2 separate regions of the Homo sapiens genome follow, and region 2 is linked to region 1. Evidence: fine-mapped expression QTL. A gene starts in region 1. The other region holds a variant in brackets. All regions are shown on one strand. Distances are between the middles of the regions.

Region 1 (16,247 bases):
CTTCTATTGTGTTGGGTACAGAATGATTCTGTATTCAAAAACCAACCATTTCTACACAGCTGAACTAAGTAAGGCCTCCAGAGGGGAGGCGCTCTGCAGGAGACCCAACAGCAAGGCCAAACCGCCGACCGAGCAGCACAGGGCGCGGGCTCCTGCCATTCCAGAGCTCCCTTCACACTTGCAGCTGAGGGAGCTCAAAGGTCGATCCAAACTGAGTCATGGATGGGCTTATTCCACTGTTTTCCAAAGCCCCCAAGCCACAAATCAAACAACCCAGTATCAGACCCGCTTAAACACACTCCTGGAGCATTTGAGGGGAAGGAGCAATAAGATGTTTTCCAATGGCTCTGATTTAATCTTTTGGGGGACTGGGATGGAGGTGAGTCTCTAAAAGCAAAGGGACGGTGTGATGGTTGGATGAGCCAACTAACTTTGGGGCAGGTTTTTTTTTAAATTTTCATATATAGTATATTCCCAATTTCTACCAAAAAATTGTAATAGAAAATAATCACATATACATGAGAGCACAGTCCTGGGAGAAAGCCGAAAGTGGACATGAAATGTTGCTTCACGTGTAGCATGTATCATGTAGAACTGTGTCATCTCAAGCAACAGCCTACCAGACCATGCCCCCAGAGACCCCTCAACAGGATATCCCCGCAGAATAGGTCTCCCTCTTCCCTCAGTCCCTGCCTCCCCAGGCTGCACTCACTAGCGCTCGCTCATGACACCTGTCCACTGTGCCTAGGTCCGCACAGCTACACCCTCACGTTCTCCCAGGAGACACGGGACTTGCTAAAAATCACGCGGCTGCAATGCATCCAGCCAGGACTCCATTCTGGCCACCAGCGCTACGCTCCTCCTCTTGGCCACAGGAATAGCGTCAGGAGCTGCGCTTCTCTCCCAGAGCTTCTGTTTCCACCGCCAGAAAATGGGTATGTTCATTTCTCCAGTAAAGTGTTTAGTTCTATAAGGGATTCGATCAACTTAACAGCTACCAGTCTACCTGCCTCACAGAATCAACGTGACTCAACAGCGACATTTCGAAGTATCACTGAAGACTGCAAAAACCCCTGAAAGTTTAAGATAGAAATGGATGCAAATGTACCCTATGAGGAAGTGTTGTGCGAGTGGACGATGATGTCACCCGTCTACTCTCAGCTCCTTTTTCAAATTCGGTGAGGCGTTTGTGGACGAGCACACCATGCAAAGCGGAGCAGAGGACCCCATGTGTGTCCTACGACACTTATTTTAACATGTTATTTTCAACAAGCAATTAATATTCCGGGGCAAAACATACCGCAAGCTTTATGAAACTGACCAGATGGGAAAAATCTTTGAGGTGCCATTTTTCCACTGGCTCAGCAAGAATTACATTATCCAGACCCAGGGAAACCTCACCCGGCTCCATTCTAAAAGTCCACTGCTGTTGAGTGAGATGCCCCCGAGTCGTCCGGCCTGGGCTGACCATTCACGGGCTCTGGAAAGAAAGCCTTGGTCTCTCTGCGGAGGAGGAGAGGAACTCGGGCCCCCGCCCCGCCCCAGGGCCTCCAGGAAGCAGCCTGCAAACTCGGCGACCCCTGGGAGCCGTGGTCTGTCCCAGCACTTTGTTTCGGAGGTAGGCGCACTGGCCGCCCACTTCCTGAATTGTTCACTCAATTTTTTTACAACTTTTGCAGACTCTTTGCTGGTGCCAAAAAGTCCTCTGGCTCAGCTAAGAAACGTGAAAACTATTTTTGGCATGCAGAAAAGTCGCTACAGGACTAAATTAGAGTCGGCGCCTGAAACGCAGCCCGCGTTCACAGATCCCGAAAATGTTGAATCCGACTCGCTTCAGAACACAGGAGGCCTGCAGCGAACTCTGGCGGCATCTCGGTACCTGGAGCCGCGGGGCGGAGGGATGGGGATTCCTGCTGTGGAGACCGTGACGCGGGACGGCCCGCAGGACAGGGTGTCAACCCCAACGCAACGCATCCGGTTAAACGTATAGCGCAACTGCGAACACGCTCGCGTGGATTAGAAGCGAAAGAAGAGAAATGCCCGAGGCAGAAACCCGCTCTGAGTCCCGGCTCCATCTAGACCCGGGCTGCCCCGAGACTACCGCGCGGCCCCTCTCGGGAACCCCGGCCGCCCGGCTCGCTCCGGGCGCAGGAAAAGCCCCTGAGAAGCGCGGGGCCCCCAGGACACCCCAGGAGAGGACGCTCCGGGCAGATGCGGGGGCACTGGGAGCGGGGGCGCCGCGGCTGCGGGAACTGAGGCTCCTCTGGGGAGGCTTCCCCGGCGCGGGGGGATGGGGTGGGCACTGCGCTCCAAGGGGCGGGGGAGGGGGAGAGGGCGGAGGCTGGGGGAGGAGAAGGAAGGGGGGGAGGAGGAGGGGAAGGGAGGAGGAGGAGGAAGGGGAGGAGGAGGAGGAAGGGGAGGAGGAGGAGGAAGGGGAGGAGGAAGAGGAGCGGAGGAGGGGAGCGAACAGGACGAGGAACGGGGCGGAGGGGGCTGGGAGGACGGAGGGGGCTGCGCCGCGCTCGGGGAGCGGAGGGGGACCGAGGGGTCCTGAGCGGGGGAAAGGTGAGCGGAGGAGGGGCCGCGAACCAGGGGGAAGCGGGAGGCCGGCGGAGCATGAGAGGGGGCGGCGGGAGGCGAGCGGGGGGAGCCCCGGAGGCTCCAACAACTTCCCAGTCCTGCGGGGATTCCGAGTTCCGAACAAAGGCGGCTACGAAGGCCGCGCGCACAGCGCTCTGTTCCGCCCCTCGGCGTCTCCCGCAGGGCGAACAAAGGCCCAGCGGGTCCCCGCGCCCAGGTCCCCCCACGTCCCCCTTCGGAGGTTCCCTTCTGCGTCCCAAGTCCCCAGGCCCCCCGCGCGCCCGATGCCCCCTCCACCCTCCGCGCCCCCCACCTCCGATCACCCCTGCGCTCCCGGATCTCCACGAAGCCCCGGACCCCGCGCCCCCGGCGTCCCCCGCGGCACTCACAGGATGGAGGTCTGCGGCGCCACGGCGGGCACGGCCTCCAGCAGCAGATGCATGCAGCGCACGGTGGTGCGGAAGCACAGGCAGCGGCTCGGACACCCTGCGCCCGGCTTCTGGGCCACCACGGCCAGCGTCCCCCAGGCGCAGAACAGCACGAGCGCCAACAGGCAGCGGCGCCCGGGGCCCCTGGAGCGCTTGGCCATGGCCGACGGCGCGGACGGACGCTCGGACGCACGGAGCCACCACGGCCGGCTCCCGACTGCGCCCGCCCGGCCGCGGCCCACGTCCCAGCTGTGCGCGGGGGGCGGGGGGCGCCAGCTGTGCACATGCGCGAGGCTCCTCCCGGCCCCTCTGAATCCCCGAGGGCGGGGCGGGGCGAGAACCCGGGGCCCCAGCGTCCGGCCTGAGCGCCCTCATCCCGGTGGGGCGGCCCGCATGGCCAAGGCGAGCGCTCGGGGGCGCGGAGGAGAGCATTGGCACCCCTGATTCTGCGCTCGAGACTCGGGGCTCGGGACCCTGGGGCCTACGCGAAGCTTCTCCACTTCTCTTACCCGTGGTTTCTGCCTGCGCTCACTACGGGTTTTTTAGTTGGCGCCTTAATGTTTGTAACACTTTTAGAGCGCTTGCTCTGATCCGGGCACGATTCCAGGCGCGCAGGCGCGCTCCTCTCTTTCTCCTTCTCCCTACCCGCAACCACGTAGGAAATTATTTAACGTTCCAAAAAAGCCCCTCATTCCTTTTGAGGAAACTGAGGCCCAAGCCCCAAAGCGCACAGCAAGGGAGTCTGCGGGAAGATTAGACCCAGGCGGTCCGGCTCCCCGGGGCCTGTCAGCCACCTGCTCTCTGCCGGCCGCCTGGCTCAGCACAGTTGGGAAAATGAAAGGTCCTGTGTGGAGTCCTTGGCGCGGCGCAATGCAGCCCCCGGGATTCTCGCGGCCTTCAGTGCGTGCCCTCCTGGGACAGACCTAGGAGGAGACCCAGGGAACCCCCCCCCCCCACGTCGGGTGTGTCTAGAGACAGCAGAAGACTTTGGAAAGGAGGGAAGACACTGCGTGAGATACGCACAAAGGTGGCGTTCTCACATAGTTCATACATTCTCTCCAATCATCTCACAAGGACCCAGTCTGAATTTCACAGACAAGGAAGGTGAGGCCAAGTTGCTGAACCCAGGCCACAGGGTGACGGTGCCAGATTCAGAGGCACAGCATGGGCGTGTTCCCGTCGCAAACCCCAAGTCTCAGCTGTGTCCCCGTGCTGGTGTTCTAGCCTGAGCTGCGTTTGAAAGCAGCCTGGAATGGGATTGGTGGGTAATAGGCTAGTTTCCTGTTGCTATGTTAAAACACAAAAGCAACTACCACGAGACATAGCCCGGAGGTCACAGGTGCATTGCTGACCACAGGGCACCATCTAAGGACTGGACCCCCGAGGCTGCTGGCAGGGGGTTCCAGTTCCTTGCCGTGTGGGTCTCCATGGCCTGCACACTGGACATGGCCTGATGCCTCCCAGAGCAGGTATTAGAAGAAAGAGGAAGAGAATGAGAGTACAACACAGAAGCCAGGGTAAAACCTAACCCAGCCTTGGAACTGGCCCCGCATCACACCTGCGGGGTGCATCCTCAGAGGTCGGTGGCTCCCGCTGACATTCCAGATGCCATCTTTCCTGCAGGATTTTATCCACCCTCTACAGCGGATGCAGCTCACACTCCGGATTCCATTTCTCCTGCAGGATCCTATTCACACACTCCGGTGGGCCCAGCTCACACTGCAGACAACATCTCTCCTGCAGGATACTATCCACACACAGAAGTGGGTCCAGCTCACACTGCAGACATCTCTCCTGCAAGATCCTATTCACACATTCCAGTGACTCCAGTTCACACTGTAGATGCCAAAACTTATGCAGGATTCTATGCACACACACTAGTGGTGCATTTCACACTCCGGATGCCGTATCTTCTGCAGAATCCTGTCCACACATTTCAGTGGGTCCAGTTCACGCTCTACATGTGCTCTCTCCTGCGGGCTCCTATCCACACACTCCGGAGGTGCCATTCACACTCTAGATGCCATCTCTCCTGCAGGACGATGTCCACACCCTCCAGTGGGTCCAGTTCACACTCTAGAGGACATCACTTTTGCAGGATCCTCTCTACACATTCCACCGGTGCCATTCACACCACAGATGCTGTCTCTTTGCAGAGTCCTATCCACATGCCCCAGGGCTGCAGCTCACACTGCAGACACCATCACCCCTGCAGTATCCTATCCACACACCTCAGTGGGTCCCATTCACACTCCAGAGGCTATCACTTTTGCAGGATCCTATACACACACTTTAATGGGGCCAGCTCACAGTCCAGAAGCCGTTACTCCAGCATGATTCTAGCTACACACCCCAGTGGCCCAGTTTACACTGCAGATGCCTTGTCTTCTGCAGGATCCTCTCCAGGCACAACAGTGGGTCCAGTTCACACTCCAGTTGCCATCTCTCCTGCAGGACCCTACCCATACACTCAAGTGGGTCCAGTTCACACTCCAAATGCCATCCACCTGCAGCATCCCAACCTCTCACTCAAGTGGGTGCAGTTCACACTCCAGTTGCCATCTCTCCTGCAGGACCCTACCCACACACTACAGTGCTCCACTTCACACAGCAGACATCATCACTGCTGAAGGCTGCTGTCCACACAGTCCTGTGGATGCAGTGCTCACTCCACATGCCATCACTCTTGCAGGATCCTACCCACACACTCGAGGCAGTCCAGATCACACTGCAGATGTCATCACTCCTGCAAGATGCTATCCATACACTCCAGTGGGTTCGGTTCACACTGCAGATGCCATCTCTCCTCAAAGATCCTGTCTACACATAGCAGTGGTTGAGTTTGGGTCCCACCCAAAGATTCCAGTGGGTCCGCTTCCCACTGCACACGCCATCTCACCTGCAGGATTCTCTCCATACACTCCACTCAGTCCAGTTTACATTCTACATGTCGTCTCTCCTGCAAGATTCTATCCACACACTCGAGTAGGTCCAGCTGAAACTCCATATGCCATCGCCCCTGCGGGATCCTGCGCACACTCTCCAGTGGGTTCAGATTAGACTCCGGGTGCCATCGCCCCTGCGGGATCCTGCGCACACATTCGAGTGGGTTTAGTTCAGATTCCGATGCCATCACCCCTGCAGGGTCCTGTCCACGCACTCCAGAGGATTCATTTCAGACTCCGGGTGCCATCGCCCCTGCGGGATCCTGTGCACACACTCCAGTGGGTTCAGATTAGACTCCGGGTGCCATCACCCCTGCAGGATCCTGTGCACACACTCCAGTGAGTTCAGCCATCACCCCGCAGGATCCTGTGCACACACGCCAGTGGGTTCAGCCATCACCCCGCAGGATCCTGTGCACACACACCAGTGGGTCCAGATGCAGATGCCATCACTCCTCCTGGATCCTCTCCACACCCTCCTGTTGTTCCAGCTCACACTGGACGCCATCTCTCCTGCTGGATTCCATCCACAGATGCTCTTGCGTCCAGCACATGCCACAGCAGAGCATCAACTGGGAGCGTAAGGAACATGAGACAGAACCACTGGGGACCATCTTAGAGGCTGCCTACCACGTGTCACTCTTGAGTTTGTGTAGAACAGGGATGCTTGTGAGAATGCTTCTTCTGTATTTCCATAATGGCAGAATGCTGGGTGGGAGCTGCAAACATTATATTCAGCAGAGGAGGAGACAGAGTCCTAGGCAGACTTCAGTACAGTCCTGCTGTTAAGTACCTGGAGCTAGAGCAGACCCCGCAGGTTACAGATGTGGATGGACCTCAGTAAGGCTGCCCTCACTTTAATACTACCTGTGTGTCCAGTGGTCCCCAGGCCATCCACACTTCTGACTGGTTACAGATTCATAGGTTTCTGAGACCCCCTCCAGCTCCATCTCCTGCTGGAACCACCCACACAACAGATGAAAGTGCTGTGGTTACAAATACAGCTGTATTATAATTGATACCAATCTGAACCTCCAAATGAAATACATCAGGTGAGGTCAGGGAGGGTCCCAAATGCAGAGCCTCTGTGCCTGGCCTGTGGGATCAGGGCCCATCACCACCCGGCACAGGGACATGATCACCAACAGGGAAGCTCTACTGAGCTTTGGTGTCCAGAGTTTTCACCAGGGTTTTATGGCTCAAGCAGGACTGATGACACACTGTCCATGGGGTTGAACTCTCCAGGGAGGTCAGGCTGACAGCACAAGGCCCAAACACTTCACCCTACAATCGCATGGTCAGTCCTAGTGATCAGCCTCCATCCTGTGTTCCTTCATCAGCGTCAGCTCAGACATGGCTGGGAGCTCATCATGAATACACACGCTCCTGTCCCTGGGGAAATTCCAAGGGCTTTGGAAGCTCTGTCCCGGGAACCTGAGGAAAAGACCCAATTCCTTCTCAAACACACAAGCTTTACATGGATACTCGTGTTTAGGAAAGTGGCACCCGCTGCTGTGTCTGCCGTTTTAAGCAAGCACCCCGCTCACAAGGCGTAATTACCTTTTTGGTCATCTAGGGACCCTTTCCAAGCCATCCAGGTGTCCTAGGTACTAAGGAGTCACACATCTACCCGCAGCACGCTCTGGGGCTCCGTACTCACTTCCAGATGCTTTCCAGACATCTCCACCTCGATGTCCCACAAGAATTCCAATGTTATGATGTCAGAAACTAGAACATCGCTCTCCATAAAAAATGCGCTTTTTCTCCAGAATCTCTAATGCAATCCTCCGCCAACCTGGAGGTCATTCTCACCTCAATCCCTACCCCATCCTTAAATACAGCAGTCACAGGATCCTGTTAATTCCTTGTGCTGAGCACTGTTCCTTCCACATGGCTGTTGGCAGAGCTCTGGCCCCTGGACCACCACTGAGACCCCTCCTGGGCATGTGCCTTTGGGTCTGCCTGGCTCATCACAGAGAATGAAGCTCACAGAGAATGTGCCGCAGCTCGGACCCTGCCACCGCTGTATGCAAGCACCTCTCAGCCCCCTGCCTAATGGGGTGGGCTTGGGGCCACCATCTCCGGTGGCTTTGCGTCTGTTCTTCCAGCCCCTTCTCTCCACAAACACCAGACATCAACTTATTTCAACTTTATTTCCTGGCAAACTGCTACTGAACCTTCTAGAATCTGCTCAGTTGGGTGGCTCCCTCTGTGCACCCCTCCAGGCCCTGGTTCCCACCGTCTTCCCAGTGTGAATATCCTTCTAGTGCTACAGCCCACCCCACACAGCCCCAGGACAAGGTTTCCATGCCTAGCTCCCTGTCAAGGCCAAGAGCCCTCGGGGATGGACTAGAACAGTCATTGTTGGGTGAAAACAAGTGTACCATGTGCTACACTGCGTGCATTACTGCCCAGCCCCAGATGATCAGGTGGACTCTTGGGCAGCCTTGCAGTTCTGAGTTTGCCCTGACATTCGCTGGGGTGGGTGACAAAGACTAGAAACATCTGGAAAAGACCTCTGCATTCTCTGCTTTAAGTTTGCTCAAGTTTAGAAATCATCAGAAACATCATAATAATGATTATGAGGTCATTTCAGCATCTCAACAGAACTCCAGGGGAAGTGCTGGGTATGGACATTCCATCGTGAGGAGGGGCCCTGTGACTGCAGATACTCAATGCCTTCCAAGTGCGCTGGTGCCACCTTCAAGTGACACTTCTCAGAGTGTCACCCAGTGGCCCAGAGGCTCCCTAGTGTGTAGTCCACCCTCGCTCAGACACGGCGGCCTGTACCTGACATCCACACTCCCCACCTGCTGCCACCCACAGGAGCATTTCAGGGCATCACGAATTGGTGGCTTTTCTTTCCAGTTCAACAGGCATCTCCCAAGTCACCTGTGGTGATTGCTTTTATATGTCCACGTGGCCACACTCATCTAGACATTGCTCTGAAGGTATTGCGGTTGTGGTTAATCTCTATCATCAGTTGACCTTAGGTGGAGGAGGTGACCTTTGATGATGTGAGTGAGCCCTGTCTAAGCAGGTGGAGGCATTGAGAGCAAAACCTGAGGTTTCCCAGAAAAGGAGAAATTTTGCCTCAAGGCTGCAGCTTCAGCTCCTGATTTCAGACCTGCTGGCCCCACAATCACTTGAGCCGATTTAAAAAATCTATCCATCAATCAATGTATCCATCCACCCATCAACTCACCTATTCATACATGTACTCATCCTTGCATCCATTCATCCCTCCCTCCTTCTTTCCCTCCTTCGTTCATTCTTCTCCTCCCCCCTCCCTCCCTCCCTCCCTCCCCCCCTCCCTCCCCCCCTCCCTCCCTCCCTCCCTCCCCCCTCCCTCCCTCCCTCCCTCCCTCCCCCCTCCCTCCCTCCCTCCCTCCCTCCCTCCCCCCTCCCTCCCTCCCTCCCCCCCCTCCCTCCCTCCCCCCCCTCCCCCCCTCCCTCCCTCCCTCCCTTCTCTTCTTTCCTCCTTCTTCCCCCAATCCCTTCCCTCCTTCCCTCCCTTCTCCCCATCCCCATCCACGGATCCATCCTATGGACCCCATCCTATGTGTCCCTGAAGACCCCCGAGTGGCATAGCATTCGTTTGCATGTGTGTGGCATTGGCAGGGGAGTCTGGGCAGGGGGTGGTCAGTGCAATGACTTGGGCCTGAAAGAATGAGGTTTTGGTGGTGAGCTCTTCCCCTGTGGAGCTGAATGTGCAGCCGTGTGTTTTGTTCACGGCTTCCTGCGTCTGCCCTCTAGAGGCCCACAGAAGCCTCGCACCTCCCCAGCCCGGCGTCTGCGGGTGAATTGTCTGAGCAGGAGCACAACAGCTTAAGCTTCATGTTCTCCGGGCCCAGGTGAAATACTCTCACCCCCTCTGATGGCCACTTTCCAATCCTGTTATCCGCCCCCAGTCTTGTGATCTGTCCCACAGCAAACACTCCTTCCAGGTGTGAGTTGTGCCAAGGAACACTGTTTCGTTGTCACACATAGTACTTAGACGCAGTGAGTGAAGAGACACTTGGTCCCGGGCCCCCTTCTCTGCACACACTGCCCTGTGTGCTACAGCATGCCAGGCAGGGTGCCAGGACAGCAGGCCCGTGAAGACCATGGCGGCGGCTGTCTGAAGACCAGCTCACAGCAGGAGCTGCGCTGAGATCTTCTCCTGGGTGCTCATGCTGGGGCCCGAGGTCGTATGGAAAAGGCTTGTCCCCCTTGCTGGATGTCACAAGGCTCAGGTGAGTGGGTCAGAGCCATGTTCCCAGTGAGTTCCCGGTCAGTGTCAGCTCAACCACAGCAAAGGACAGCCGGGCAGGGCACCAGGCTCCTGGCAGACCCACGGTGAGAGGCAGCTGCAGGCTCAGAACACAATTTACTGTGTTCAGTTCAGCCACAGAAAGATGAGATTCTAGAATTTAAATGCTAAGCATGGAGAGTCACCACTTCTCTGTCCAAAGGTCCCTCCATCCGCCAGAGCACCGGGTCAGGCACCCGGGACATGCCCAGGAGTGGAGAGAAGAGGGGTCCTGAGGGTCCTCACCTTGTGAGAGTCACATCTTCACTGCTCCTCCCCCATGGGATCTTTATGTAAATTAAGCCGCACACTTAGATTCCACATTTTTCTCAGATAGGCGCCAACAGGGGCTTTCTGCATGCCTAGGTGATGAAGTCAGAGGGTGGAAGGCTCATGTCTGGGAGAGGGGTCCCGCTAATAACCCCCTCCCCAACAGGGGTCCTGGGTGTAGACAGAGGCCTCCCCAGCCCAGGCCCTTGGCACGCTGTGTGCGGAGGTGGGCGACCCTCTGTCCACCCTCGGGGAGAGGGTCTGCTTCCTGCCTTCCATGAGCCGCGCTGGGGCTAGCCAAGGCCTCTGCAGGAGGGGGAAGCACCGAGAGGGTTTCAGGGTTACAGTGGAGGGAGTTTAATTGGGCGACTGAGAGGTGAGGCAGTTAGGGAAGCAACCAAGCATCTCCACCATGCCCCCACCCTCGGAGGCCATGGAAGGCGGGGGGAGGAACGTGTGAGCCTCACCTAGCTAGATTTATAACTGCAGGAGGGGCTGCCAGGGGCCATGGCTGCAGGTGGATGGCTGGGAGGGCAGGGAGGGCATGTGGAGCCACTGAGGCTGATGCCATCCCCTGGTCACCCAGGAGGAAGCCAGGCGGTAACGGGGACTGGGCAATTCCCTATTAGAGGTTGGTTCCCCAGGACAGGTGAGGCAAGGAAGGGCAGAGACTGGACCTGGAAAATCCAGCGTGAGCACAGCACCCAGCCAGCTTCCAGGGAAGTGAGCGGGCAATGAAAACAGACAAGGAAGGGCAGAGACCCTGAGAAACTCACAGTTAGGTGGAAACACAGTCTTAAATGCAAGACACTTAGGCCAAGCGTGACGGCTCACACCTGTCATCTCAGCATTTTGGGAGACCAAGATGGGAGAATCACTTGAGTCCTGGAGCTTGAGACCAGCCTGGGCAACGTAGTGAGACCTTGTCTTTACAAAGATAAAACATATATATTTAAAAAATGTTTTTAAAGCCACGTGGATAGAAGCTGCTTGGATGACCACATTAAGTGAATGGCCGCATCTGTGCACTGGCTCTGCAGCCCTGGGCAGCGACACAGAGACAGCAAGCAGAGCATCCATCACCAGGATTCTCAGGCAGGTGTTACACCAGAGCTCATGCGTGTCTGGCCCCAGGCTCTGAGCTGTGGCGCATTCTTCTTGCACATGCCCTGTAGGCCGGGTGAAATGTTGTCACTGAAGGTGAGCTAGGAAGTCACAGGGCAGGTTTCACAAGAGACACATCACAAAGACCCTGCTCATAAAACAGGATGTGGGAGAGAAGCCAGCCAAAACCAAGATGGTGGCAAAAGAAACCTCTGTTCATTATACACTAATCATAATGCATTTGCATATGCTCAATGACGTGCCTGGCAGCACCAAGACAGTTTACAGACGCCATGGCAACGTCTGGAAGTTACCCTATGGGGTCTGAAGTGGGGAGGAATTCTCAGTTCTTGGGGAATTCCCTGCCTTTTTCCCAGAAAACTCATGAATAATCCACCTGTTGTTCGGCATATAATCAAGAAATAACCATAAAAATAGCCACCCTTTTATTCCTGTGCGGTAACCACCCATTTATTTCTTTACTTTCTTGATTAACCTGATTTCACTCTGTCCTCTTGCTCTTTTTTTTTTTTTGAGACAGAGTCTCGCCCTGTCACCAGGCTGGAGTGCAGTGGCATGAACTCAGCTCACTGCAACCTCCACCTCCCGGGTTCCAGCGATTCTCCTGCCTCAGCCTCCCGAGTAGCTGGGATTACAGATGTGCACCACCACGTCCAGCTAATCTTTGTATTTTTAGTAGAGATGGGATTTCACCATGTTGGCCAGGCTGGTCTCAAAATCCTGACCTCAAGCAATCCACCTGCCTCGGCCTCCCAAAGTGCTGGGATTACAGGCGTGAGCCACTGTGCCCAGCCTGTCCTCTCACTCTTGAATTCCTTCCTGCATGACACTAAGAACCCATGTGACCTCCCGGGATGAGCCCCGATTTGGGGGTTCACCTGTGATAAAGTAAGCTGGTGAACAGCAGGGAAGCACTCTGTGTCTGTAGCTTCCTGTGAGTATGCAATCATTTCAAAATTAAAAGTTTGTTAAAGCTATAAAAATTATAAAATAAATTAATAAAAATCATTGTCTCAATCTTCACAACAATCATGAACCTTGAAAATGAATTACTGTTTTGTTTACGCAGAAGAGGAACATGAGACACAGATGGGCTGAGTAAGCCCCCACGACGGCAGCAGGGGAGTGAAATGGAACCAGGGTCTCCAGCCCAGGCCACGCCCCCTCCCCGGGATGCCTGCTTGCTCTGAGCCCAGCGTTTCCATGTGTGAAGTGTCTGCCATGTTAGGGCAGCCGAGGACCCAGCATCCCAGGTTCTCTGTGCAGTGTTCATCACTTGCCCTCCAGATCTTCCCAACTCCCACCTCCCCAGCCGGCCTCCCCACTCCTGCGGAAGTAACTGCTGGGGCCCAGGACTCACTGTTGCCCCAAATGCCCAGCACTTAGCCCTCCTCGTGCAAGACTCAGCTGTAACCTCAGGTCCTTTGAAGGCTCCCATGCACTGGCCCACCTGCGGGGAAAGCTGGTCTTCCTCCGTGCCCGTCATGATGTCTCCGTCCCTTCCTCACCATCACGGCACTGAGTGCCTTACCTGCTCACACACACAGCCGTCTCCCCACCTGGACTGTTCGATCTGATGATTTTTATCAGCGTAGGTGCTGGTAACCACGAGGTAATGTGCTGATGGGGAACTGACGGGTTAGTGAGTGGCTGGACAGCTCCTGCCATGCTGGCTGGTGGGGGCGTCCCCCCTGGACTGTGGGCCCTGCTGGAGCAGGCATCTGATGCACCCCATGGCCCCCACCCAGTGCGTTCCCTGGAACACAGGCTCTGAAATATGCAATGTGTGGATTCACGAGGCAGTGGCCAGGAGGGCTCATGGGGCTTGCTGCCCTGGGGCAGAGGCAGGAAGGGCTGACAGAGGCTCTGGGCCCAGCTCTGCCATGTGGTCTTTGGCAGGCGCTTCTGCTCTTTGTGTCTTGGTCTCCCTGTCTGTTCAATGGAGCCCACCCCAGGTTCTGTGGGCCTCCAGAGCCACCTAGAAAGAGCACCTCAGTAGGTGCAGGCACAAGGGGAGTGCCCGCTCGCACAGCTACCTTCCAGCAAAGCCCACGCTGCCCATGTGCCCACATTCCTTTGCACGATGGTTTTTCTTTTTTTTCTTGTGCTCCCCACACTCCTGGGTCCCCAGCCTCCAGGTCACCCTCCTTATTATATCCAAATGAAACGCTCCACCTCTTCAGCACCCCCTGTCCCCAGACATTTCCAGGAGGTGGCGGGACCCAGGAGTCGGATGCACCCCTGGCACCAGTTACCTCTGGATCCTTCTCTCCTGTTCGCACGGTGCCCACATCATTCAGCCCCCCACTTAACAAGGGGTCCCATCTTTACTGAGGATATGAGGGTGACGGGGACCACAGTTAGCATGGAGCTGCCATTATCTCAAAATCACAGGAAATTTTCTCTCTTTGTAAGTACCCTAAGTCTTCCCCACTGCAGGGAACATCTCACCCACCCCATCCTGGCACATAGACTGTCCTCTCTGGGGTCTTCCAGTATTCAGAACTGGTGCTCCCAAGGCTCCTTCGTCCCCTACCCTGGGCACCTAAAGCTCTTGTCTCCACAGCCCTCCAGGCAAAAACAGGAAATGCATGCTTATTGGGCAGAGTTGTCTGGTTCTGCTCCTTCCCTGCTGCCATTCCAGGAGAGGGCCGGCCTCCTGTGCATAGATGATAGGTAAGCAGGTGTGGTTTCCGAAATGTAGTCTCACCTGCTGGCATCTCTCCCATAGGCGATAGGGGTGCAGCAGCCTCCCCTAACACACTGGGCGGGTGCCTCGCTGGGCAGGAGTCTCCCTAGCGGGGTGCCTCGTGCTCTTCTCCTCCCAGCCCCTTTCTCCTTCCTTTTCCAATAAAAAGGACCTCAAAACAATAGAGCTCAGTGCTGGTGATGAGATCAGTGTGCCTCTGCCCTCTGGGTGCCAGGGGAGAATTCCGCCATGCCTGGCTGTGTGTGTGCTAAGCACAGAGAACAAAGCAGAGCATGTCTCAGCTAAAAGAAACTTCCTGAGAAATTCCAGCTGGAAAGCGCAGGAGTGACCGCAGGCTGCTAGATAAATGAGAGTCGACTTTATAGATGGCTCAGCTAAAAGAAACTTCCTGAGAAATTCCAGCCGGAAAGAGCAGGAGTGACCGCAGGCTGCTGACCGCAGGCTGCTAGATAAATGAGGATCGACTGCGTAGACGGGCAGGAAAGTTGCAGTGAGACAGGAGAGCAATGCTGGCTCTGGGTGCCCTGGGGTTGATAAATATTAGTCTCTGTGGAGTAAATGGATGATGATGGAGCTTCCCCACAGAGAGAAGAACTAAGGCTTTGGATGCTTGGAGCAGATATTTCCATTATTATTAAGTTTGTTTTTTTGTGGATTTAATTAGTACTTATTCAAACTCCATTCGTGATCTGTCATACTGCTCCCTCAAAGCCTAATTGGTTTTCTACATAAAATGTCACATAGTCTTACATCCACTGTGTGGCTGCTGGAAGTCTGTCGCTGTGCTCAGCAGGGGCTGGTTGTGGAGGTGAAATATGGCTTCTTGAGGAGGAACAGAGACTTGTAAACAGGAGGTTGTCAGCCTGGGCTTGGGAAGCATCAAAGCCAGCTGAGGGCCTGTGAAGCCCTGGATGAGGCTCCACCCGCCATGTCTGATTCAGGAAGGATGTGCATGGCTGGCGGGTGCCCAGGCACCATGGATGCTGCTAGTCCCAACGTCGCAGGCCCCCAAAACTGGAGTTCAGCCTGGGAGGCCTTGTGGGTTCTTCACTTGGAGCAGGAAGAAATTCAAGAGCGAGCGGGCAGAGTGAAGCGAAAGCAGGTTTACTAAGAATGTGGGCCGGGCCCGGTGGCTCACACCTGGAATCCCAGCACTGTGGGAGGCCGAGGTGGGTAGATCACCTGAGGTCAGGAGTTCAAGACCAGCCTGGCCAACATGGTGAAACCCCATGTCTACTAAAAATACAAAAATTAGCTGGGCATGGTGGCGGGCGCCTGTAATCCCAGCTACTGGGGAGACTGAGGCAGGAGAATCTCTTGAACCTGGGAGGCGGAGGTTGCAGTGAGCCGAGACAGCGCCATTGCCCTCCAGCCTGGGTGACAGAGCAAGACTCCATCTCAAAAAACAAAAAGAAAAGAAAAGGAAAGAAAAGAAGAGAAAAGAAAAAGATGCAAAAGCCCCCATCTCCTCAAGAATAAATTATTTTTATAAAATGCAAACTCTGGCCAAGCACAGTGGCTCATGCCTGTAATCCCAGCACTTTAGGAGGCCGAGGCAGGCAAATCACCTGAGGTCAGGAGTTTGAGACCAGCCTGGCCAACATGGTGAAACTCCATCACTACTAAAAATACCAAATTAGCCGGGCGTGTTGACACATGTCTGCAATCCCAGCTACTCAGGAAGCTGAGGCAGGAGAATCGCTTGAACCTGGGAGGCGGAGGTTGCAGTGAGCCGAGATCCTGCCACTGCACTCCAGCTGGGTAACGAGAGCGAAACTCTGTCTCAAACAAACAAACAAACAAAAACAAACAACAACAACAAAAAACCCACATTTTGGGGAGCAGTCAGGGAACAGCATAGACGGTGGCGTGTCACTCTGCACAGGGCCCCGGGTGGA
Region 2 (16,247 bases), 69 kb after region 1:
CACCCAGGCTGGAGTGCAGTGGCCCGATGTCGGCTCACTGCAGCCTCTGCCTCCTGGGTTCCAGTGATTCTCCCGCCTCAGCCTCCCGATTACAGAATTATAGCCTCTGGGATTACAGGTGTGTGCCACCACACCTGGCTAATTTTTGTATTTTTAGTAGAGACAGGGTTTCACCATATTGGCCAGGCTGGTCTTCAACTCCTGACCTCAGGTGATCTGCCCGCCTTGGCCTCCCAAAGTGCTAGGATTACAGGCATGAGCCACCGCACCCCGCCTATAATGTTTTATATATGTATATGACATATGTGTTTATTCTCTCTATACATAATATTGTATTTCACCTGTATATGAAGTGTTAGATGGACCGTGTCCGTAAGTGGTGTGATGATGTGTTAGTGATATATCTAGAAACACTCTTTACTAGTGCAGGCAGATTACATCATTATTAGAAATATCTCTAATATCTGCATTAATATAATTAAGCTTTCTAAATATTATTTTTGTAATACATTTTCTTTTAAAATTTAAGAAAACAGGAAAATTCATAGCAGAAGAACTTGATCGTAATACATTTTCAACTGGGGATATTAGTGGTTGTTTTTGGGGAAATCCTATCTTTGTATAAAAATATTTCCAGTATTCTTCATCCACACCACAGGTCTAAGTTGTTATTTTTTTGATGTGATGTTTGCATCTCATAATTATAATAGAATATTCATAAAATTCTAAATAATCATTGCTGTTGCCTGACTGTGTCCCCTGAAAACTCGTGCACTGAAATCCTGACCCCCACCGGGATGGTGTTAGGAGAAGGGGCGTATGGGAAGTGAGGAGGCCTCGTGATGGGATCCGTGCCCTTATAACAGGGACCCAGACAGCTCCTTAACCCCTTCTCCCATGTGAGGACAGAGTGAGAAGGCGTCGTCCACCAACCAGAGAGCAGCAGTTGCCAGATGCCGAATCTGCTGGTGCCTCGGTCTCGGACTTCCAGTCTCCAGAACTTGGAGGAATAAATTTCTGGTTTCTATGCTGCCCAAGGTATGGTATTTGTTTTTGCAGCCCTGGAACGTCTAAGACAATCACCAGTATTTGTTGCTCATACCACAACTCTGTGGCTGTGAACTGCTGTGTTTGCTGATGATGTTCCTAGGTTCAGTGGGAGAAGGAGCAGCGGGGACTTTAACCCCAGCGTCATCAGCTCCAGCATCATCAGCTCTGGCGTCATCAGCTCTGGCGTCATCAGCTCCAGCATCATCAGCTCCCGCGTCCTATCCCATCCCAGGGCAAGCCGCACGGGAAGCCCCAGGAGCAGAGAGGCCTCTGGGAACTGGGTGGCCTGACAGGGTGGGCACGGTGGGCGCCCTGGCTTCTCCTGCTTGCCCTGACTGCATCCCCAGGAATCCGGACAGTCCCTGAGGGGGTCCTGGCTCGTGGTTCCCTTTGCTGTTTTTTTGTTCATTTATTTGTTACTAGACATTGGCACTGCTGCTTCTGATGGATCCTCTCACCCTGCCTGCTGCTGTTTACACCGGAAATCCCTGTGCTACTCAAGCTGTCTTTAGTGTGGGGCGTGAACGAACCCCTCGCGTTCCGGAGGGAACAGGCTCCTCTTCAGTCCTCCCTGATGGGGCCTGGGCAACAACCTGGCAGTCGTCCCCACTCCGGGGCACCCTCCTGGGTCTTCTCCTGCCTCCCCATCAGATCCCAGCAGGACGCCCTGCAAATCCGGCTGGGGTGGGGGCTGACACTTCTGCTTCCCTAGCTTATCCGTAAATCTGCTTCTGAAGGCGAGCTGGATATTTTCATTTGTAAAATAAGAAGTTCTCAAAAGATCTGTTAAGGCTCTCCTAAAATAGGATGCTTGGATGTTAACGCCACTTTTCCCCTTCCTGCCACTGGACACACTGTGGCTGTCACACACATCTTCCTGCAGGTGTGTCTGCGCTTTGGCCCCCGCATCCAGGTAGACTCTGCAGTCAGGTGACTACATCTGGCAAGTCCTTTGTGAGACCAGGAGGCCCACTGGACCTCACACCGCACCCCCTGATGCTCTAACGCACATAAGACGTGGAACTGGCTAGGAAAGACTTAGGCAGTCCTGTTTGCTCACTTATGAAATGAGAATAAAATATTGAATTGACTGTGTTTGTGAAGTTTAATGAAAAGAATGTGTATTCTTGAGGGCAAGGATTAAAATGCACTTTTTTGTTCACTGCTCTGTATCCCCATGATGGGAGAGTGCTGGAGATGGAATAGGTGCCCAGTGACGACTTCTGAAAGCATAAAATGTCTGAATGCACTTTGTGATGGCTCAGTGAGTGGAGGCCCAGGGTGAGTGTGAGTGCACCCAGGCTCTGGAAGGTGCAGACTGAGCCCTCAAAGAGGCCTGCGGCAGGATTTTGCAGGACTTCCAAGTTAAGAGAAGACTCTTAGCCGGGCGCGGTGGTTCATGCCTGTAATCCTAGCACTTTGTGAGGCCGAGGCGGACAGATCATGAGGTCAGGAGTTCCAGACCAGCCTGGCCAACATGGTGAAACCCTGTCTCTACTAAAAATACAAAAATTAGCTGGGCGTGGTGGCAGGTGCCTATAATCCCAGCTACTTGGGAGGCTGAGGCAGGAGAATCTCTTGAACCCGGGAGGCAGAGGTTGCAGTGAGCCGAGATCGCACTGCTGCACTCCAGCCTGGGTGACAGAGCAGGACTCCGTCTCAAAAAAAAAAAAAAAAAAAAAGACTCTTGAATGCAGCTGCCGCCCTGGGTTAAGATGAGAGGAGGGCTGGGGTGAGGGCCTCCTGCAGAGGTCCTAAGACTGTGACTGTAGGACAAGGGTGACGCCTGGTCGGTCCACGGTGCGTGTGGCCCAGCCCGGCTCAGTATGATCCTCACAAATGCAGGGAGCAGCTCCCATCTTTCCCCCGCTGAACCTCTCTGGCCTTCCGCCGTCTGAACCTCCGCAGCCCTTTCGACTTTCCCTGTGTTTGCGAATGGCATTGAGGGGCCAGGAGCTGCAGGTGGGGGGGAGAGAGGGAGGGCCACAAAGGCACGCCTCCTCCTCCTTGCCGTCCTCCCAGCGAGCAGCCTCTGCTGTTTGCGCCTGAACCCCCTCCCTTCTCTTCATCACTTCAGTCCAGGTCTGTGCTTCTTTCTCCCTCAGCGAGGCCCCTGGGCCTCAGCCTGGGTCCCATCCGTTCCATCCCACAGCTGAGAAATGGCCCCAGGGGCACAGCTGTGATTGCCCCCACTCCCCCAGGAGAGCTTCCAGCAGCTTCTCTGAGAGCAGCTGCCGATGCTGGAATATTTCCTAGAGCAGGGGTCCCCAAACTCCCGGCCGTGGCCTGTGAGGAACCGGGCCGTACAGGTGGAGGTGGGCAGTGGGCGGGCGAGCATTCTCACCTGAGCTCCGCCTCCCGACACGTCAGCGGCGGGATTCGATTCTCCCAGGAGCGCAAACGCTACTGAGAACTGCGCCTGCGAGGGGGTCCGGGCTGCGGGCTCCTTAGAAGTTAATCCTGGTGATCCCAGGTGGAACGGTTTCATCCAGAAACCATCCCACCCCTTTTCTGTAGAAAAATTAGCTTCCGGCCGGGCGCGGTGGCTCACGCCTGTAATCCCAGCACTTTGGGAGGCCGAGGCGGGCGGATCACGCGGTCAGGAGATCGAGACCATCCTGGCTAACACGGTGAAACCCCGTCTGTACTAGAAATACAAAAAATTAGCCGGGCGTGGTAGCGGGCGCCTGTAGTCCCAGCTACTCGGGAGGCTGAGGCAGGAGAATGGCGCGAACCCGGGAGGCGGAGCTTGCAGTGAGCCGAGATCGCGCCACTGCACTCCAGCCTGGGCGACAGAGCGAGACTCCGTCCCCAAAAAAAAAAAAAAAAGAAAGAAAAATTAGCTTCCATGAAACCGGTCCCTTGTGCCAAAAGGTTGGGGGCCGCTGTCCTAGATGGCCTTTGCGACGGGCTCTTCTCACACGTGCTGCCTCCCGCTGTCCACTCACGAATTCCCCAGGCCAGCGATCTTCTCTGCCGCTAGGTGAACGCCCCTGGCACTCCCACTTGAGTTTGCTGTCCCGCCCTGTCCCCATCCAACTGACCTCCCAACTCTTTACTGTTTTGTCCACAAAGCAGGGCCCGGCCTGCACCAGGAGGCCCTCCAGGCCCAGGCTCTGGCCCACCACAGCGCTGCCTTCCTCGAATCCCCTGCGCCCTGGAGCGCAGCCTCCCGGGACGTGGACATGGGCGGTTCCCATCCTTGGTTATCTTTTCCTCTTCTGCTGGTCTGAGGGTGGTTCCTCGGAATGCCCACCACATTGCTATGTGTATCCCGGTGTCCAGGAGCCTTTGCAGATGGGACATGTTTAGTAAAAATGCACAGCATAGAAAATGGAAACAGACTGACATCATGTCAGTGATTTTTCCTTTAGGATTCGGCTTTTGCAGAAACTGCCCCCAGCCTCCACCTCACTGGGGGTGCGGAGCTCCCCAGCCTCTTTCTCTTTTATGGGTCTTGCCGCAGAATTTTTAAAGATCTGCTCAGTTAAGTTCTTTAGGGCAGGTCTCACTTTCTTTTTCCCACAGTGCACTAAATGCTTGCAGAATGGTAGGTGCAGGCCTGGCGGAGAGCATTCACCCATGAACGAACAGCTCCTTAGTGGTGGGGTGGAGAGTGGAACCTCGTTTCCCTGGCTCTGCTCCAGGCTTGCTTCTTGGGGATTCTTGTTACCTACAACCTAGGAGCTCCAGGGAGAAGTGAAGTACAGGCTTGGAAGTCAGACTTTCTCTGCTAAGTCCTGCTTCTGCTGCTGACTTATTCTAGTGACCTTTCTAAGCTCGGGTGTTTCATTTGTAAAATGGGAATTTAAAAGCAAACAAAATTTCCCACCTCATAGGGATATTTTGAAGGTTGAATATAGAGAAAGGATATTAAACCAGAACCATGAAAGGCAGATGTCAGGATAGCCAGGCCTGGGAGAACAGGTGAGGTTCCGTCCTGTGGAATCAGCTCAGTGAGCTCCGGCCGCCACAGGCCTGGCTCTCTGGGGCACATGGTTGAGAGCCCGAGGTGAGGCCCCTCTGCGGCTGGGCTTGGTGACGCAGCTCCCAGAGCCTGGCTGTGTTGGTGCGGATGTCTCTGCCACCTTCGCTGAGCAGCATCAACAGGCCCCTTCCCCATCCTCTCTGTCGCTGGGGTCCCTCCCTGCTCCCACTCGTCATGAGGGGGTGCATTTGCTTCTTCAGTGGCTCTTGCCTCATGATGCTGTCAGCTCTACCCCAGCAGGGTCATCCCCGTGTCCTTTCCACCCTCTCCACTCAGAATCACGGTTCCTGCCTGGGAAACCACGGGCCCTAGAGGGATGTCTGTTGCGTGAATAAAATAGGAAGGACAGTGTCCTGCCTCTCAGTTGTCAGGAAGCAAGAGGGGCCGAGAGGCCGAGCTGCTTTCCCACTCTGATTCTGAGGAGGGAAGAGTGTGGGGGAGCACCCCCCTGGGTACACCTCCATGGAATCCTAACAGCCACCCCTTCCCCATGCCCTGCCCCCAGAACTCCCGGCCTCTCCGCACCAGACAGTCGGTCAGGCCAGTGTCCCAGGGCTGCCTGGCCCATCTCTCCTTTGTCCTGTAGTTTATCTTTTCTAGTTTAGAATTATTTTTTGTCTCTTCTTAGCCATAGATGGCTTTTCCTGCATTCAAACCCTTAGACTGGGGAGTGGCTCCAGGCATCCAGGTGAGAGGCACACGGCACCGCCCCGAGAAACTCCGTGGCTCCCTGTGCATCAGCACGCTTCATCACCAATGGAACGCCCCATGGCACAGTTATCTCTTTTTTTTCTTTTAAAAATATTTTAATAGAAACTAGGTCTCACCATGTTGCCCAGGCTGGTCTCGAACTCCTGATCTCAAGCGACCCTCCTGCCTCAGCCTCCCAAAGTGCTAGGATTACAGGTATGAACCACCACATTCAGCCTTTTTGTTGTTGTTGTTAAGAAATAAAACAGAAATTTTGATGGCTTAAAGTCCCATGTTAAAAATTTTGTATTATCCATTACTAACACATCACACAAGCACTTTCCAGCTCAGGTAGTGTTTGGGGACCCAAGGCAAGCGATCATTCTGAGCTACGCTGTATGGATTAGCGAATGAAGCAGAAGCACTTGGGGAAACCGGACAGGCCCCGCGGATAGCAGTTGTGTGGTGCCTGGCAATTCCTGGCTCAGGAGCAGAGCTCTCCGCCGGGTTCCCAGAAGCTTTGGGCCCCGGTGGGCACCCCCAGAGGAGAGAGGGAGGAGCCGCTCAAGCCCCCCCACGCCACTCACGATGCTTCCTCCCTCCTGTTTTAGATCCAGCAGAGAAACCAGCCTAACGGGGAGGAGGTGCTGCGTGAGGAGCCAAGGACATTCCCAGCAAATACTTTCACAGCTTAAAAGCCACAGCCAAAAGCAGCTGCTGAGGCTACGCCAAGACGAAGGCGCATAAAATGAGGATGGACATGGTGCACGTTGGCTGCTTTGACTTGACTTCAGGGAAACCCCGTCACCCATGTTCTCTCGCTTCAGGCGCTTCTTTCAAGGCCACTGAGTGAGCGCACAGTGACAGCTGTGGCCCCCCAGGGGGTGGCCCTGTCCCGTTCCTATGCCCCAGTGTATGCACAGGGCCTCACTGCCCGGCTGGGGGCCTGGGGCCTGCATTGTAGGGTGAGAGGTAGACGAGAGGACCCCGGGGTCCTGCCAGTTGGTTCCGTCCCAGGGTGGACCCCTGTTGTCGGCAGCACCCAGGGGTCCCTGCAGACGCCGTGCTCCAGAGGGGCTGCACACGGCCACCTTGTCCTCAGCTCCCCATGGGTGCCTCAGCTCCTGAAATCATGCAGTGTGGTCAGAAGGTGGCTCCTGCTGGGAGGTGGGCACTGGGGTACTTGTCCACTCTTATGTCAAAAAGGCCCATTTTCTCATGACTTGATTACAAAGTTCCTTATTAAGTGTATTTAGTCATATCTATTAGGGATCTCCCCATCCTGGCTTCTCCTACCTTGAAAATAAAGGAACAGAACTAAGTTATGTGCGGTTAATTAAGTGCATGGGAGAGAACCACCCAGAGGACCGACGGCTCCAGGAAGCAGAGGCCACCGGTGCAGGGAGGCAAGTCCCCCATGGGTGGGGGGATAGGGGCGCCACACGGCCGGAAACTGCAGAGTCCACATTCCTGGACCCACACTGCGGTTCAGCACCGGCTTTGCCCACAGTCTCACGCTGCTTCTCTTCACTCTCAGTTAATAAAACTGCCTGCTGGGAATGACAAATAATGGTGTTATTTAAGGAGCAGGAGCCTTCAGCAAGAGTTTGGGAAACTAAATTAGGAAAC[A/G]AAGACGGGCCTGAAGAATGATGCATTCTGTCCAAACGCGGCTGTGTCGGTGCTGCCAATTCCAATCCGGTGACTGCACTGCCAGCTCAGGTCCAATTTGGAAGAGAACCCTGGGAGCAGGCCCAGCGCGGCCCTGGGGGGTGGTGGCGGCCCTGGTGCGGTGACAGTGCCATCTAGCGGTGGCCTGGGGGCGGTGCTGGTCCCGGGCTCTCGGGAAAGTCCACACACCTGGCTCAGCCAAGGAGGTCAGCCCACGGCTGGTCCCGGGTGTAAATTATAAAGAGGGTGCTTACTATTTTACTCACACGTTAGTTCTGAACCTGAGACCCAGCGGCCTGTTACAGAAACGCTTCTCCAATTAAAGTCAAGTGCTGCTGAGTGTAGGTTTGGAAGTCACCAAGTTTCAGTGCGGGGAGGTTCCGGGCAGCAAGTAGTTAGGCGGCTGCTCCACCCGCTTGCCCCAGGCCCCAGACGTCTGGCACCAGGCGTCAGCACCAGGGATTCCAGATGAAGGTTCCAGCGAAAGCTTTAGAAGGGCTTCAAACCGAGCTCCGGGAGGCCCTGACATTTTTTATCAGGACATCAGCTAGAAGGGCCTTTTCCTGGAGAACATTACAGTTGGAAATAACTAAATAAGTGAAACTTTCGAAGGGGGATATGGTTAACAAGACACACAGATTGGGAAGAAAAATAAGTAATTTGAGAGGAGGTGGGAGTGTGTGTAGAAGCTTTGTTGCAGCTGGAAGGTGCTAGGATGAGAACTCACGACAAAGAGCTGCGGGTGGGAAGAGCCCAGCCAGGTGCTGTCTGCGATTCAGTATCCTCTGAACATCAGCTCCACACAGCCAGGGGCAAACAGTTTCCTTCACAGTGAGTTTCACTCTAATAACATTTTATTTATTTTACTATTCCCTATTCCACTGCTACTATTTTAATACTCTAACTATATAATATGTAATTTATATGAGACACAATACACTCCAGGTGTACACTGTTACTGTGTATTTTAATCCTATTCTTGTCACTGATTGACTCATGATGACGGAGCATCTCCTCAATAAGCAAACAGGGATTTGGTGCAGCAGCCACAGCCTGTCCTGCATTTGCCCCGGTCGCCACGAGAGCAGCTCTCCTGTGGTTCGCTTCCCGGACTCTGGCCCCAGCATATGTGAGGAAGGGCAGGAGGGTGTTCTTGGAGCCACGTGACATTTCTGCCTCTGACTGTGTATCAGATCTGCTTCCATCTCAGTGGGAAGCAATGGCATCGTGGTCCCTTCTCAAGCCAAGATCCAGAATTTGGAGGTTTTTCCCCTAAAAATATTCTGTGCCAAACAGGGTGCTCTCAAACCATGGAGAGAGGGAAGCGTTTCTAGAACAGTGACCTCTGTGGCAGGTGGACGCCTCGGCCACAGCCACACAGGCAGGTGGTGCAGAAAGTGCAGCTGTGGGTGGCCGTGTGACCACCCAGATGGCCCCCAGCTCCCAGCTCCCAGACCAGGTCCCTCCCACTGGGGTGCATGTCCACCTGCCTCAGGAAACAAAGGTCCCTCTCAAAGCCTGAGGGATGGCAGCTACCCACACAGCTCATTCCTGCAGCCCAGGGAGTCCACCTGCCTCCTGCCCAAGGGATGGATTCTGGAGCCACTGCTATTCGGCAGTGACAATCAAAACACTGTTAGGAGAAGAAGGCCTGAGAAGAGACGTTTTGAAGAGCCACTTCCATAGGTCATCAAACGTCCTATCTCTATTCACTCATCAGCAACACTTACCTCCTGTCCTCAAGCACAGTCCTAACAGGAGGGTCATGACAATGCTAACAGCAGTGGTGAGCTGCTGTAAATGCTTTACTTATCACATGCTGGCATGCTCTTCAGACTTGGCCCACTGCTCAAACAATCTATGACCATCCCATTTTACAGAGGAGAGAATCGAGACGCAGAACAGCTAACTTGCCCCAGACCATACAGTCAGAAAAGGCAGGGCTGAGTTTATACCCAGGCCATCCAGCACCAGCCTCACCCTCCACTCCTCCTCCTGCAGCCTCTCTCCATGCACCCGTGAGTGACAGATGCTACACTCGGGCCCTGCCAGTGCAGTTCGGGCAGAGGCCCCTGTGAATACACATGCCCTACAGGGATGCACATGGTCCGATGATGTGATGCTCTGCAGCATTACAGAGGGAGGTGGAGTCCGCATGGGTATTTAAAGACAGACATTTGTTTGAAGAGGACAAGGAGCAGTGGAAGGGCCAAAGAAGCCTGAGCAGCATGTCTTCAGCTTTGAATTTAGGTCTGGGTGCAACCAAGGGGCAGAGAGGCAGGGAGCTGGAGGGATGGGTAAGAGCTTATTAGGGAAGATCTCAAGTGCCTTACAGAGGAGAATGGATTTAGCTTCTAGGCAATGACAAAGGATTGGAAGCATGTAATCCTGGCAACCACACAGTAGAGTTTGCTTGGTAGAGAGCTCACTGGCAGCAGCCTGGAGGATGCTTGCAGAGGGCAGAGGGCAGTGGGGGGGGGCCAGCGAGGAAGCTGGCAGAGGGGCCTGGGGGAGGAATGAGGGAGTACAGCCTGAGGCAGCAATGGGTTCAGAAGAGAGCACCCACTCAAGAGGAGTAAGAAGGGCTGGGGCTTGGTCACCCATTGGATGGGGCTTGCTGCTTTTGCATTCCAAATTGATAGTTTGGTTGAGTATAGAATACTGAGTGTGCAATCATTTTCCTAAGAGTTTTGAAGGCATTGTTCTATTTGATTCTTGTTTCCAGCATTGCTGTTGAGTACATCTCTTAGCTTCCTTTTCTTTTGTCTCTCACTTTGTCTCTGTTTGTCCCTCTCTTTCTCTGTATCCCCACTCCAGGTTCTCAAAATTTCATGATGATGAACCTCTGTGTGGTTGGCTATGACAGTTTTATATGTCAACATGGAGAGGACACAGCATCCAGTTGTTTAATCAAATACTTATCTAAGTGTTGCTGCGAAGGTATTTTGTAGAGTGACTAACATCTACCATCAGTTGGCTTTTTGTTGTTGTTGTTGTTGTTGTTGAGACAGGGTTTTGCTGTTGTTACCTAGGCTGGAGTTCAGTGGCATGATCATACTCACTGCAGCCTCCAACTCTTGGGCTCAAGCAATTCTCACTCCTCAGCCTCCCAAATAGCTATGACCACAGCCATGTACCACCATGCCTGGTTAATTTTTAAATTTTTTGTAGAGATGATGTCTTGCCATGTTGCCCAGGTTGGTCTTAAACTCTTGGGCTCAAGTGATCCTCCTGCGTCCTCCTCCCTAAATACTGGGATTACAGGTGTGAGCCACCACACTTGGCCTAGCTGACTTTAAGTAAGGAGATTATTCTCAATACTCTCAGTGGGCCGGACTCAAGCAGTCAAAAGACCTTAAGAATATAACTAAGGTTTCCCCGAGGAAGAAGAAATTCTCCCTGTGGAATGGAACTTCTCCTGAACAAGAGTTTCTAGGCTGCCTGTCTGCCCTACAGATTTTGGACTTGTGGAGCCGGTCCCAGATGGTGTCAGCCAGTTCCTTGTGATGAACCCGTCCATATATAAATCCTACTGGTCCTGCTTCTCAGGTAGAGCCCCGGACGACATAGAACCATTTCATGATTGCGTGGCTACTCAACGAGGCCTTTATATCTGAAAACTCAAGATCTCTGCCATGGGGATTTTCCTTGTTTTCTTTCTTTGGGAATTTTCTTTCTTCCATTTGCTCTACTCTCGCTACTTCTTCAGAAACTCCTATTAGTTGATTACTAACTCTCCTGAATTCTTTATTTTTTTTTAACAAAATCTTTTATCTTCTTTTCTCATCTCTTTATAATTTATGGGACATTACCTCAATTTTACATTTTAACTTTCAAAGTAAACTTTTTATTTATTTTTTAAAATAGATATTCGTGTTCTCTGAATGTTTCTTGGGTTATGAATACAATATATTTTAATGTTCTTTCTGTTCTTTTCTGTCTGATGACAAATTATAGGTTTTTAAAAAGATTGCTCCTCTTTCCAGAAATGTTTCTGCTTCCTCTGAGCTTCTTTTGCCCCCTGGTAAGGCTGGTTTGTTTGCTTGGTTTCTGCCATGTTGTTTACTGCTTGCCTTCAGTGGCCGGAGTCCTTGGCTGTTCACGCATACATCCCAGACATTGGTGCCTGGAGGCCCTTTATCTTGAATCTGTTGGTTCTAGAGAAGAGGCCCCTGCTCTGTCTGGAGTGGCGGGGAGTGGAGAAGGCAGAGGAGCAGGAGGAGCCGCTGGATTCCCGGAGCCACACGGGACCAAGGCCTTGGGGCCTGTCCATCTCACTTGACGTTCCCATCTTCAGTACAACGGCTCATCCTGTTTCCAGCTCTTCCTAGCACTAGCTCCAGAGCTTCTGTTCTAGCTTATCCTTCTGCCGGGGAGAAGGAGGCCTGTGGCAGGGCATCCGGGAGTCGAACCCCTCTTAGACAATTCAACTACTCCTCTGTTTTCCGACCAACTCTGAATCCCCACTCTAGGTCCCAGCCTCTTTTCTATGGAGGTTCTGCATGCTCTTCACTCCTCTTTTTCTGGGTTCTTTCTTCACTCTTTCTCTCCACCCCCATCCTCTCCCTCCCCAACAGCTCCTCTGCAGGGAGCTGAGGCCTGAGCCATGTGTGCTTGGGCTGGGCGGCTCCCAGTGCTTTGTGGATGGGATGGTCTGCACTTCCCTTCCTTATTTAGTTATTTAGTTGCATTATATTTGTGGGTTTATAAGAGGAGAGTGGGTCATTTTAGTAGTGTTTTAAGATTTAGTGGAGATATATGTGATTTCAGTCTGCAGAGCTTGGCTAGGATTCCCAATAGAGATGCCTAATAAACCCAGTATTGAGGAACACACGTGCACCTTTCTGCAAGGTGTCTGCCATCTTTGTGTGGGTTGGGTCTGTTTCCTGGAGAGCGCAGGGTGTGTCCACTGTCAGCCCCTCTTCCCCAGGGATGCTCCTGCGTGCTCAGCAGGCACTTGGCTGCCACAGGATGGCGAGGGCTGGCCCTGGGACCACATGGATCTGAGGGTGGAGGCAGAAGTGTGGCCTACAGCCTGTGTCCTTCGAGAGGGTCCCCTTCCTTCCTCCAGGGACAGGATGGCTGTTGTGGTAGCAAACTCACCCTGAGGTGGTCTCCGAGTGTCAGGGGCTGAGGTGCAGGACCCGGATATCTGGGTCCCTGGCAGTCAGAAGCCACCGCCTCATGGCTGCTGCTGTGTCCACGGTGAAACCCTCCTCTCCTGTGAAGGAGCCACTGCCTCACCAGGGCTGCTGTGTCCACAGTGAAACCCTCCTCTCCTGGAGGGTTTCTCTTTCTCAGGAGCAGCTGCTTGCTGCTGAGGACTGAGTGTAATCCTAGCAGAAGGGAAATGTTTAGTTTTGTTTCTCCTTTTGCTTGCCTCTCAGGAGCCTCGGTTGTTAACGTTATCACTGCTGTGGCTTGGCTGTGTCTCCTGAAGGGATATGTTGATGGCCTGGCCCCTACACCTGTGAAAGGGACCTTATTGCACCTCGTTTTCTTTTTAACATGTGAACCATAACTCTTCTGCAAATGTGAGCTTTTGCCCTAAGCTCCTCAAATGGCATCGACACGTGGGAGGAAAAGATCCTCAATGAGGAGACACCTGTCCTGCTGCACAGCCCTGTGGCAGCTTGGCCTCCCCAGGCAGACCCAGCAGGGGCACCCAGCTGGTGGTGCTGGCTGTTATAGTCGTGGTGGTTGTGGTAGTGAGGGCTGTTGCTGCTGTTGTCAGAGCTGTGGCTGTGAGGCTGTTGTTGCTGTGGTTGTGGCTGCAACCTTCATTGTCATAGATATAGCTGTGGCAGCTGTAGTTGTAGCCTTCTCTCCACTTGGGGCACTCAGGTCCACCCTATCTGGCTCAGGGCTTCGGCTCCGGGGTCCTGGAGGAGGGAGCAGGCAGTGGGCTGGAGTGGGTGTGGTTGACGCTGGAGGGCAGCCTCTGAGCAGCTCCCCCAGGACGGAAGCGAAGGCTGCAGGCGGGGCTTGGGTCAGGCTCCTGGGAGAAGCAGTGACGAGGCTGGGTGCCTGCAGGAAGACCCTCAGCTGGCTGCATGTTCAGCCCTGCAGGTGGGTCGTGCTCCTGGGAGGAGCAGCGATGAGGCTGAGTGCCTGTAGGAAGACCCGTGGCTGGCCGCATGTTCAGCCCTGCAGGTGGGTCAGGCTCCTGGCACGAGCAGCGATGAGGCTGGGTCCCTGTAGGAAGATCCGTGGCTGGAGGCGTGTTCAGCCCTGCACTGCCAGTGGTGGCGGCCCTCGTCCCGTGTGGTCAAATTTACATTTATATTTACTGAAATCTAACAATTTTTAAAAGTTCTCTGTCACAGGAGCCAAACTTCAAGAGCTGAGTAGTCTCAGGTGTCCAGTGACCATTACGTGGCACAGTGTTGGCCTGGGCCTCGCCGTCCCTGGCACGACCCATGGGATGAGGCCGCGCCTCCCCCCCCAGCGGGGCCGCCGGGCAGAGGTGATGTGGGATGCTCAGTGACTTTTTAGGGAACGTGCCAAGCCCTCTCCATGGGGGTTGGGGAACGTTTTTAGTTTGGATTCTAAACAGAGAGTGATTCTTGCTATGGAACAAATTTAAATAATAGCTAATAAAGCAGACTAGACTTACTAAACATATTCCTATGCTTAGGAGCCTGCATTAAGCATTTTAGATACATGACCCCAACCAATTCTTCCAACAATCTGTAATGTAGATTCAGTTTGGTATTTTCTCCACGTCTCTCTAGGGTTAGGTAATTTTGTGCCCAGCAGAGCAGGGCGGTGCTCTGTCCTCTGGGAAATACTGCCTTCCTGGAATGTTCCCTCCAACCCAGAGTGCTGAGAAGGCTGGCAGGATAGAGGCCAGAACATGTCTGACGTCAGCGCCAGCCTGGACGGAGAGCTCGGATCCCAGAGAAGGCTGAGCACAGGGAGGAGAGGGGCATGGGCCTCTGCATTTGAGCTGCTCTCGTCCTGAAGTTTGTGCCCTGGGCCCTGTGAGAACTCAGGGGCCAGCCTGTGACACCCCGGCCAGGCCATGCGAGGGTGGCGCCGGGACGCCGCCCTCTGCGGCTCCTTTGGGGAGCACTGACCAGCACTCAGGGATGGATCCGTGCAGCGAGTTGTCGAGAGGAGAGAGTGGAGGAGGACTCCGCAGTATCCCGGCTGATGCATATTGAGTCATCCAGAGGAGAGAGAGGGGGAGGACTCCGCAGTATCCCGGCTGATGCATAATTTGTTCTTCTTATGCATTTTACCACCATTTTGGCTAGCATTTGGTGCTTCAAGGAACAGCTGTTAGAAGCGAAAATCAGAGAAAAAGGCATTTGCGTTTCAAAGGCTTCGCTTTGTGGATGACACATCCCAGAGATAGGAGGAACTCCTGGCAGCAGCCATAGATTTGGAAGGATGCATCCCCATCAGGTAGCGGTGGAGGAATCTCCAGGGAGGAGACAGAGAAGGGAGAGGACAGGAGGGAGAGGAGTAAGGGGTTTGGATGCCTGTGGGTCCTCAGAGAGTGGCCTGAGAGCCAGACTTTCTCCCTTTCCCCTGAGAGCAACATGGAGCTGGGGAAAGAGACCTCAGACACGCCACTCCCCTGCCTTCCTGATGGCGACAGACACAGAGAGGCCTCAGGGCTGGGAGCCGGGAAGGTGGAGGAGCTGCCCATGAGGCTGGTGCTTTGGCAGGGAAAGGGGCCCCCCAGGAGCTGCCACCTGCCCCAAAGGTGCACCTGGGATGAAGATGGGGGGGAGGCACCACAGCGACCTAGTTATGGCGAGCAAGCTCTCACCATACAGTAGAGGAGGAGACAGAAATTAGTTCAGTTACAGAAAACAGATACATTGGTAGAATTTACATGTTATAACATAATTCCATTAAAAAGTTGGCATACTCCTGAAAACCTACTTACTCTTCCCTTAAGAATCAAGTAATATTATGTTTATTAGAAATTATTTGGAGAAATCAAAAGATTGGAATTACAGTCTTAGCTTCACACTAATTATGAGAACGTCAAAGTTTTTTGTTTGTTTAATTGAGATTAATTCACATATGGGAACCCGCTTTTAAAAGATCAGGTTCCCCATCTCTTTATTGGATATAAGAATGATCCTATTTGTTTGTACTGTTAATTTTTTGTTTGTATATTGGTTTTCCCTATAAAATTATAACAGGCTAAGTTTCTTGGGACAGAGACTGTCTTGAAATTTTTATTTCTCTGAAGATCCTAGCGCAGTGGCTGGATAGTCCCCTTCCAGTGGGCAGAATGCTAAGGTGGCCCCAAAGTCTCCCCGTGTGCACCTGCCGTGCGTGGGCCTCTGTCCTTGAGTGTGGATGGTCCTGTGAACACAGTATAGTCATTGCCCCCATGATGGGGTGACATCCTATGAGACCCCAGCCCAGCTGCCAAGCAGTGAGGCCACCGGCTGTGTGGCCAGGACCTGGGGGCCTCATCCGCGGAGGACGACTCTGCCCAACGTCCAGCAGGACAGTCGGGCCTGACAGCTGCAAGCTCAGGAGCTGAGTTCTGCCAGGAACCCGCATGAGCTGTGAGTTGGACTGTGAGCTCCAGGGGGGACGCCACCTGCAGAGGACCCCCTTAGGCCAGCCTGGGCTTCCACCATGGGAAAACTGAGCTAATGACAGGGCCTGGGTTTAAGCTGCTTTGTTTGTGCCACTTTGGAGAACAAACTAGAAGACCGGCACGGTGCTCGGGCATGGGACACAGTTCGGCTTCCTGCGCTGGCGCAGAGGGCCCTGCTGAAGCTCAGTGCTTTCATTCAGCATCTGCTGAATGCTTGCCAGGTCCTGGGGAGGGCTGGGGGGCGGGCGAATGTGGGAGTGCTTCAGGAGGGAATCTTCC

Direction of the effects. Alleles are on the strand shown, and positions count from the first base shown. SD is a standard deviation of normalised expression in the study named.
For the expression in caudate of the gene that starts at base 3,229 in region 1, allele G in region 2 goes with a lower level than allele A (moderate effect, 0.58 SD a copy in GTEx).

The links.
Region 2: its variant is fine-mapped to the expression of PXDN in caudate (GTEx, PIP above 0.99). The same link has a PIP of 0.9 or more in nucleus accumbens.

What each region holds. Positions count from the first base shown.
Region 1 is chr2:1,741,287-1,757,533 of GRCh38, forward strand. It overlaps PXDN (peroxidasin), which reads right to left and starts at 3,229. Exons shown (of 23, transcript NM_012293.3): 1 at 2,970-3,229. The coding sequence starts at 3,169. It overlaps LOC124907724 (a long non-coding RNA gene), which reads left to right and starts at 9,441. Exons shown (of 2, transcript XR_007086189.1): 1 at 9,441-10,188; 2 at 11,486-12,668. RefSeq lists an enhancer at 9,994-10,494.
Region 2 is chr2:1,810,165-1,826,411 of GRCh38, forward strand. All of the region lies in intron 21 of MYT1L (myelin transcription factor 1 like), which reads right to left. LOC124905967 (a long non-coding RNA gene) reads left to right here and starts at 13,381. Exons shown (of 4, transcript XR_007086192.1): 1 at 13,381-13,465; 2 at 14,131-14,806. RefSeq lists enhancers at 6,170-7,082, 15,929-16,247. The variant A/G (reference allele first, on the strand shown) is at 7,358.